2 linked regions of the Homo sapiens genome follow. The protein of the gene in region 1 binds, or shares a complex with, the protein of each later gene. Each region holds a gene or a part of one and is shown on either strand. Other genes may lie near its edges. The genes, in order: TMEM231 and TMEM17.

Region 1 (3,825 bases):
AATCACTCGAACCTGGGAGGTGGAGGTTGCGGTGAGTGGCGATTGTGCCACTGCACTCCAGCCTGGGCAACAGAGTAAGACTTCGTCTCAAAAAAAAAACAAAAAAATTCCCTCTGACTCTGCTCAGTACATGCGTGTGGATTTCATGTGTATCTCTAAAGGGTTATCCTCCTTTAACCATGAGAAATCTTTTCAGTTAGAGTTCTTATGAGCTATTATAGAAGAGCCCTGAATCAGGAGTCAGCAAACCAAGATCCTTGTCCCACAAGGTCCTAGTCCCAATTCTGTCACTGGGTTTCATAACCTCACCCTCAATTTATCTATCCATATACAGGGCATGAGAGTACCCACATCTCTCCTGGGATATGCAGAGGAATCACGTGGGACAATGAATGGATATAAAAATTGTTCCAAAGCCTGTATATACGTTGTAGATATAAGGTGGTGGTGTGATATGTGAATTCTCTTGGCTAAGTACCAGTTGGAGGTTAGATAGCGACCTAGAATTTGTGTTAAAGAAGTAGTAGCCTTTGAATGCCTGCCTTTGTTAGCTATTGCACATATGTTAAACTTACTTTCAACTAAATGGAATTAAATAATTGATTTATTCAGTGGTCCAAGTGATAACAGAGGAGCACAGCCAAACTTCGCCAGCCCCAGGAGGGTGAGAGTCCAGCTTGGTGACAGGTCATTTGTGGGAGACACATCCTTTCCATCGAAACTTCTCTCCCCCCTCTCTCCACCCTGCTCTCCTTCTCACCCACTCTGCCAGATGCATTGATCCCACGGGTACCCAGAGCACATGTACCTGATTAGCCTGGATCCCTCCTCTCTGAGATGTTCCTGCACCCCATCACTTCACTTCCTTCAGGACTCCAACAAGTTGGGTCATCCTGAATATTTAAAAATTTCTGTTAAATTCTTTTTGGGTTTTTTTGTTGTTTGTTTGAGATAGAGTCTTGCTCTGTCACCAGGCTGGAGTGCAGAGGCACGATCTCGGCTCACTGCAACCTCCACCTTCTGGGTTCAAGCGATTCTCCTGCCTCAGCCTCCCTAGTAGCTGGGATTACAGGTGCACGCCACCATGCCTAGCTAATTTTTGTATTTTTAATAGAGGCAGGGTATCGCCATGTTGCCCAGGCTGCTCTCGAACTCCTGAGCCCAAGCAATCCACCCACCTGGGCCTCCCAAAGTGCTGGGATTATAGGCATAAGCCACCACGCCTGGCCAATTTCTGTTAAATTTTACCTTCATTATTCTCTAATTTTAGCCTGCTTCATTTCTGTCAGCGGCACTTGTCACTGTTTTCTACATTGTCCATCGGGAATGTATGCCCCATTAGGATGGGGACTTTGTCTATTTTGTTTACCATTATAGTCTCATTATTTGAAATAGTGCCTGGCGTGTTTCCAAAAAGTACGTAACAGATCAATGAGTGAATTTAACAAGTAGACACTATTGATGGTGTTGTGCCAAATCTGTCCCCCGCGAACTTGGAATGGAAGGATGTGCACAGGCAAGTATACAGACGTAGATGCCTGGTGCTGCTGTTTTTCAGGAAGATTTGTCCAACCTGCTGTCTTCATTTGGAATTTTTAAAATAATTTTAGACATTTTGGTCCTAAAAAGAGGACCAGATTTGAAGTCACCTGATCTCAAATCCTGTCTTCACCATTACTTGCTGTACCTCTGATAAATGCCCTAATCTCACTCATCCTTGATTTTGTCATCTGTGTAATGGGAAAATACCTGTTCTGCCTGCCTGGGGCTTTACATTTATTGTAAAGATCAAAGGAAATGAGCTTTTCCCCCTCCCACAGTGTGTTGGAGTCTGGATTCTTCTGGCAGTTGTCTCCTGGCCACTATCCTCTGTTGCAAGTTGAGAAATGTGCTCTTTTCTTCCTGTCCAACCCTAAAGATCTAGAAGGTGTGGATCCATCACAGAGAGTTACATAAGATTTTCTACCCAGATCCCAATTGAAGAAAATCCACAGGAGACAAGGCAGGCTCTTTTATTTATTTTTTATTTTATTTTTTTGAGATGGAGTCTCGCTCTGTCACCAGGCTGGAGTGCAGTGGCAAGATCTTGGCTCACTGCAACCTCCAACTCCCTGGTTCAAGCGATTCTCCTGCCTCAGCCTCCTGAGTAGCTGGGATTACAGGCACGTGCCACCACTCCCAGCTAATTTTTGTATTTTTAGTAGAGACGGGGTTTCACCATGTTGGCCAGGATGGTCTCGATCTTCTGACCTCATGATCCGCAAGGCAGGCTCTTTTCATCCTACCTATAATGACTAGTCCATCATTGCCTCAGTAACTTGATCATCAGCCCTGGTAGCAGATATCCCTCCCCGAAGCTGATGAAACAGGGCAGAGAGGAAGTATCCAAGAGAAAAGGGAGGGAGGTTTCTCTAAAACAAGACCTAAGAGAAGGAACATTATTGTCTAGAAAGAAAGAAATAATTGAAAGTTTCTGAAAATTGAGATTTCTTCATTTCAAATGACCTTATTATTAGCCTGAAAAAGCACACACACAAAAAATCTCTTCCTTACGTAATAGTAATGGTGGGAATCAAAATGAATCCATAGATGGTGGATCCAGATGGGAATGCTGCTACACGATAGTAGAATTGTTCTGGGAATCCACAGTGGGAAAGGATCAGTTGTAGCAAAAAGATCCAGAGTTGTGCAGAGGGACCATGTCAGCAGTGATCACTTTTCAGTAACCGTGCTTTCCTGATCATCATTTTAGCATCACTGTTTGGCAAGACTGTGGATGGTAGGAGTGGATACCAGTTTTTTTTCACTGCCTACATATGCTTCATAAGCTGTATTTTGTCTTTTTTCCTCTACAGACCTCTGTCTTCTTTCCTTTCATGCCCGTAATTTATCAAATAGATATGGTTTTAATACTTTGCTGATTTGACATAGCTTCCTTTTTCATTTCATTGATTGCTACTAAAAGATGCACAAGGCTTTCAGGTCCTCACACGAATGATGAGATAAGATCCAACATCAAGAATCTGAAGCAAAGACACTCGTGGTTTCAGAATCTATAAACAGAGTTTGGTAAGGCCGGGTGCGGTGGCTCACGCCTATAATCCTAGCACTTTGGGAGCCTGAGGTGGGCGGATCACCCGAGGTCAGGAGTTCAAGATCAGCCTGGCCAACATGGTGAGACCCAGTCTCTACTAAAAATAAAAAAATTAGCTGGGCATGGTGGTGGGCACTTGTAATCCCAGCTCCTCAGGAGGCTGAGGCAGGACAATTCCTTGACCCTGGGAGGCGGAGGTTGTAGTGAGCCGTGATTGCGTCACTGCACTCCAGCCTGGGCGATAGAGTTAGACCCCGGCTCAAAAAAAAACAAAAAAAAATAGAGCTTGGTGATTTTCTGTTGAGTTTGAGTTTGTTGGAGGAATGCATAATGATTAGGATTAGGTGTTTTTCTATTTTAACAAGTTGACTTCTAGAGACATAGAAGACTATTCTGACATGCTACTTAAAATTTCCATACAAATTCAGGCATATTTGTAAAAAAGAAAAAAATATCAGTGCAAAATAAGCAAGATCACATGAGACAACTGAAAGGCACAAATACTATCCAGATGTTTTTTGTTATTGCCCATTTATTTTGGCCAGTGAACATTTGAAAGGCCCAGATATGAAGTTCAGGGACCATGCACTTTGTGTCTCTCCCCAGTATTAATGCACTTACATCTATCTGCTTTTCTCTTTTAGTGGAGGAGATAATGCCTGTTGTGTACAGCAAGACAGTGGGTCATTGTGTATTTACAGAAGTGATGTGGATTCCTCCCAGACTCATTA
Region 2 (3,803 bases), on another chromosome or scaffold:
CTACTTTGGCATGAGAAAGATTAATCAGCCACTGCATGGAGGGAGAAATATTTGGCTGAACTTTATATATAATCATAAAGAGCAGAAATAATAAAATTAGCATAGTTTGGTCAGGAAGAATCAAGAATGAGTGGGAAGTAAAGACATTTTTTGAAGTTCAGCCAAACAACAATGAATAAGGCAAAACCTGGGAATCCTAAGATAAGCATGAATTGTAGAAAAAGAAAATTGAAAAGAGCAGTTTTTAATGCAGCTACAACTGTCCCTCAGTAAAATACATTATGAAGGCCCATTTCCCTATAGAAAAAAAGAAAACCTGTAATGAACATATCATATCCATTAAGACAGTCCAACAGTCACTTAAATATAATGTTCAGATACACCCAAGCAACTTTGTTCTTAACCAATTCTCCTAAAATAGATTTCTCCTATTAGCAAGGGAGCATGCTCATTTAGGATCATGAGTATAGTCCCTTTGGCCATCTTAGCTCTCATATGTATTAAGAGGCGCTCTGGTTTCCAAATCAAGCCTCACGTGAATTTAATGGGTATGAAGCAGTTCTTTGGTGAACAAGAACCTAGTAGATGCAATCACAAGTGCTAATTTAAAATGCCTACTACAGTGCCCACTACATAGAAAGTTCTCTAGGATTTGTTTTCCTTCCTTCTCTTGCAACTCTGTAATAAAAAACACAAATCTATAGCCCAAAATAATTGCACAAGACAAGGATGATTTGCTGCTGATACCTTAAATATTTAATAATTTATTGTAAAAGCATTTTGTATACCACCATTACAAATACTGAATATGGTTTTATGAAAGTTGTAATTTTATAACAAAAATATTTCCTAAATACCAAGGCAATCCACCTGTTTTCTTCTTCATCTCAGTATAACAGCTAATATTAGGGTTAGAATTTAACCCTAGCAGACATGAAAATTTGGTCTCTTGTTTTATTTTTTATTTATTTATTTTTTTGAGATGGAGTCTTGCTCTGTCACCCAGGATGGAGTACAGTGGCTTGATCTCGGCTCACTGCAAGCTCTGCCTCCTGGGTTCACACCATTCTCCTGCCTCAGCCTCCCAAGTAGCTGGGACTACAGGTGCCTGCAACCACGCCTAGCTAATTTTTTTTTTTTTTGTATTTTTAGTAGAGGCTGGGTTTCACCGTGTTAGCCAGGATGGTCTCGATCTTCTGACCTCATGATCTGCCCACCTCGGCCTCCCAAAGTGCTGGGATTACAGGCGTGAGCCACCACACCCAGCCGGTCTCTTGGTTTACAAATATAGACAAATACATAGGAACACTGACTGGTATTTCCATGTCAAGAAACATGGTCATATGTACAGACAAGACATGGATAACCAACAAGTTTTAAAGAAATGTATACATCTCTAGTTAAAGATTCTAACCAGAAATGCTACGAGAGAGCTGGCAAATGACAACCACCAATACATAGATTTCTACACTCCTGAAAAAGACAACAACATCAAAAAAAATTAAGAAATTTGGCATCAGGTGGACAACATCTAGGTTTTAGGGTTAATATACTGTTTCATATACTGTACAAAGTTTCATCATTGCCCCCAACCTTGGAATTTCAGAGTGAGAGCATATACAATTCAAAACACTTGCTTTGTCCCTTTTCTCAGAGCTCTGATATTTTCCTAACTCTTACAGTCTCTAGAATGATCTGTCAGATTTTCACTCAACAACACTGGATCAGATCTCTTCTATACATGACCTCATCCTTCTCATGTCTCCTCTGTTTGCAGAGAGCCGGTCAAAGTCTTGGAGGTGGAAACGAACTGCCAACTGATTAACCATTTTCCTTAAGGTAAGAAATGCTGCAACAACTTGGAAAGCAAGGAAGAGAGTGAAGATGATATGTATCGCTTTTTCCAAGGGCAGATTTGTTAGGCCTTCATTAAAGAGCAAGAAAAGAATTAAAGGTAACTGCAATAGAAGGCTCAAAAGCCAAAAGCCAGCCAACTCAGGAACCTGCAATGACACATATCAAGAGTAATAAAAATCAGTAAAATACAGTTTCTGTTTATACAGATAAACAAGTACTTATCACTACCGTGAACCTACATTATGGGCTCTGTGAGTGATTCCAAAGGAGGATGACATGGTCCTTGTCCTCAGAGAACTTACAGTCTAGATGAGAAAACTAATTCATGTAAAACAATCCTAGAATACTACACTTTAGTGAACAATTAAGTGCAATATTTAGAAGTACAGACTAAATGCTACAAGAAATAAGGGAGTGATTAGGGTAGGTGAAAGAAAGACCTCAGGGAGGTAGGCTTTTTAAGTTGTGGAGAAGAAGGAAGAGGCAAAAAGGTAAGTAAGCAAACACGTGAAATTAGCATGATTGGGAATCAGCACATCAGCCTGGAATGGATGGCTGAGTGAGAAAACAGCAAAACCTACAGTAAGACAGGCTGGGTGGGGCCTTATTATGAAGGGCCTAGAAAACCACGGGAATCTTTAGGCATTATCCCTATACTCTGGTAACCACAAATGCTTAGGCAGCATGATGATGCAGAAAACATGGGCCTGGCATAGGAAATGAATTCATAATTTTCCCCCATTTTCTTATTCAGGATCCAAATACACATGTTTAAGTAACCATGTATTTTCAAGACTGATAAGAAGAGGGAAAATATCAATTTTAAGTGTTTACTACATTCATATACTTTACATAAATCATTTCACTTAATCACAACAAACCTGTGAAGTAAATATTATTTTCCTCATTTTATATATGAGGAAACCAGGGCTCAAGAGATTAAGCAAACAGACCACAGTGACAGAAGTGGTAAAGCTGGAGTCAGGCTTTAAATTCAGGCCTGTGCTCTTTCTGCCACACCTCACTGCCTTTTACTTGTTATGAAAACTGATTTCATTTATATCTATCACTGAGAGAAAGGAAAAAAGAGCTTACCTTCTCCTGTAGGTTACCCACGTAGCCCAGATACAACCGGATGGCTTCAATTAAGGTTATTAGGATGATAACAGTGATCACAATGAATTTGTAGTAGTCAGGTAAGATTGAATACTAAAAGAAAAGCCAAAACATGTTTGTAAAATCTCATGTATAGTAACATTGATTTAAGATAGAAAAAATTATTAAGAACTTGAATTTTATTGACACTCTAACAACGTCAGGGCAGCAAAAGTATTAAAGCTTAGATTTACCTTCATGTGAAGCATCATAATGCTGCTCACCCACCACAGTGGGAAATAGTAGGTATTAAAATAAAGTGACATCTGCAGTGCCAAACTGGAGACCATTTCATTTTCTACAGAAGGAACAGAAAAGGAACAAATGATGAATCTTGGGTTTATGCCCTATATATATATATCCTATTCCCTAGAATTAATAACTATAATATTGGCTCAGTAAAACACCAAATTTTATGCCTATTTATAATCATTGACAGTAAAAGGAATATTCATCCTAATACCAGTTAGGTCAAATATTGGCTATTTGGGGGTACGTTTCATATTTTTCAATTATTTTACCATTTTGCCATTACAGTCTTCTGACTTTTTGGCATATACTACTGGTATAGATTTAATGTAGAATATCAACATAAATCCTATTCAACAGATAATTATCATTGCCTCTTTTGTAGAATTCTATGTAAATAGCATATAAAATTAATGCATAAAATAAATAAAAATGAATCTCCCACAGATAAACTAATCTTATACAAAAACGGATTACCAAGGTTATAATTAGACACATCTCTCTTTTCAGCATACCCTAATCTTAGCCATTCTTTAAAGTCC

What was found.
Region 2: TMEM231 (region 1) and TMEM17 share a complex: the UniProt entries of both Homo sapiens proteins name them as parts of the tectonic-like complex.

What each region holds. Positions count from the first base shown.
Region 1 is NC_000016.10:75,545,991-75,549,815, reverse strand, and holds part of TMEM231 (transmembrane protein 231), read left to right. Parts: intron 1-3,738; exon of another isoform or gene 3,739-3,825. UniProt on the Homo sapiens protein: Transmembrane component of the tectonic-like complex, a complex localized at the transition zone of primary cilia and acting as a barrier that prevents diffusion of transmembrane proteins between the cilia and plasma membranes.
Region 2 is NC_000002.12:62,499,485-62,503,287, forward strand, and holds the end of TMEM17 (transmembrane protein 17), read right to left. Parts: intron 3,311-3,803; coding exon 3,207-3,310; intron 3,067-3,206; coding exon 2,953-3,066; intron 2,004-2,952; coding exon 1,725-2,003; 3' UTR 734-1,724; downstream 1-733. UniProt on the Homo sapiens protein: Transmembrane component of the tectonic-like complex, a complex localized at the transition zone of primary cilia and acting as a barrier that prevents diffusion of transmembrane proteins between the cilia and plasma membranes.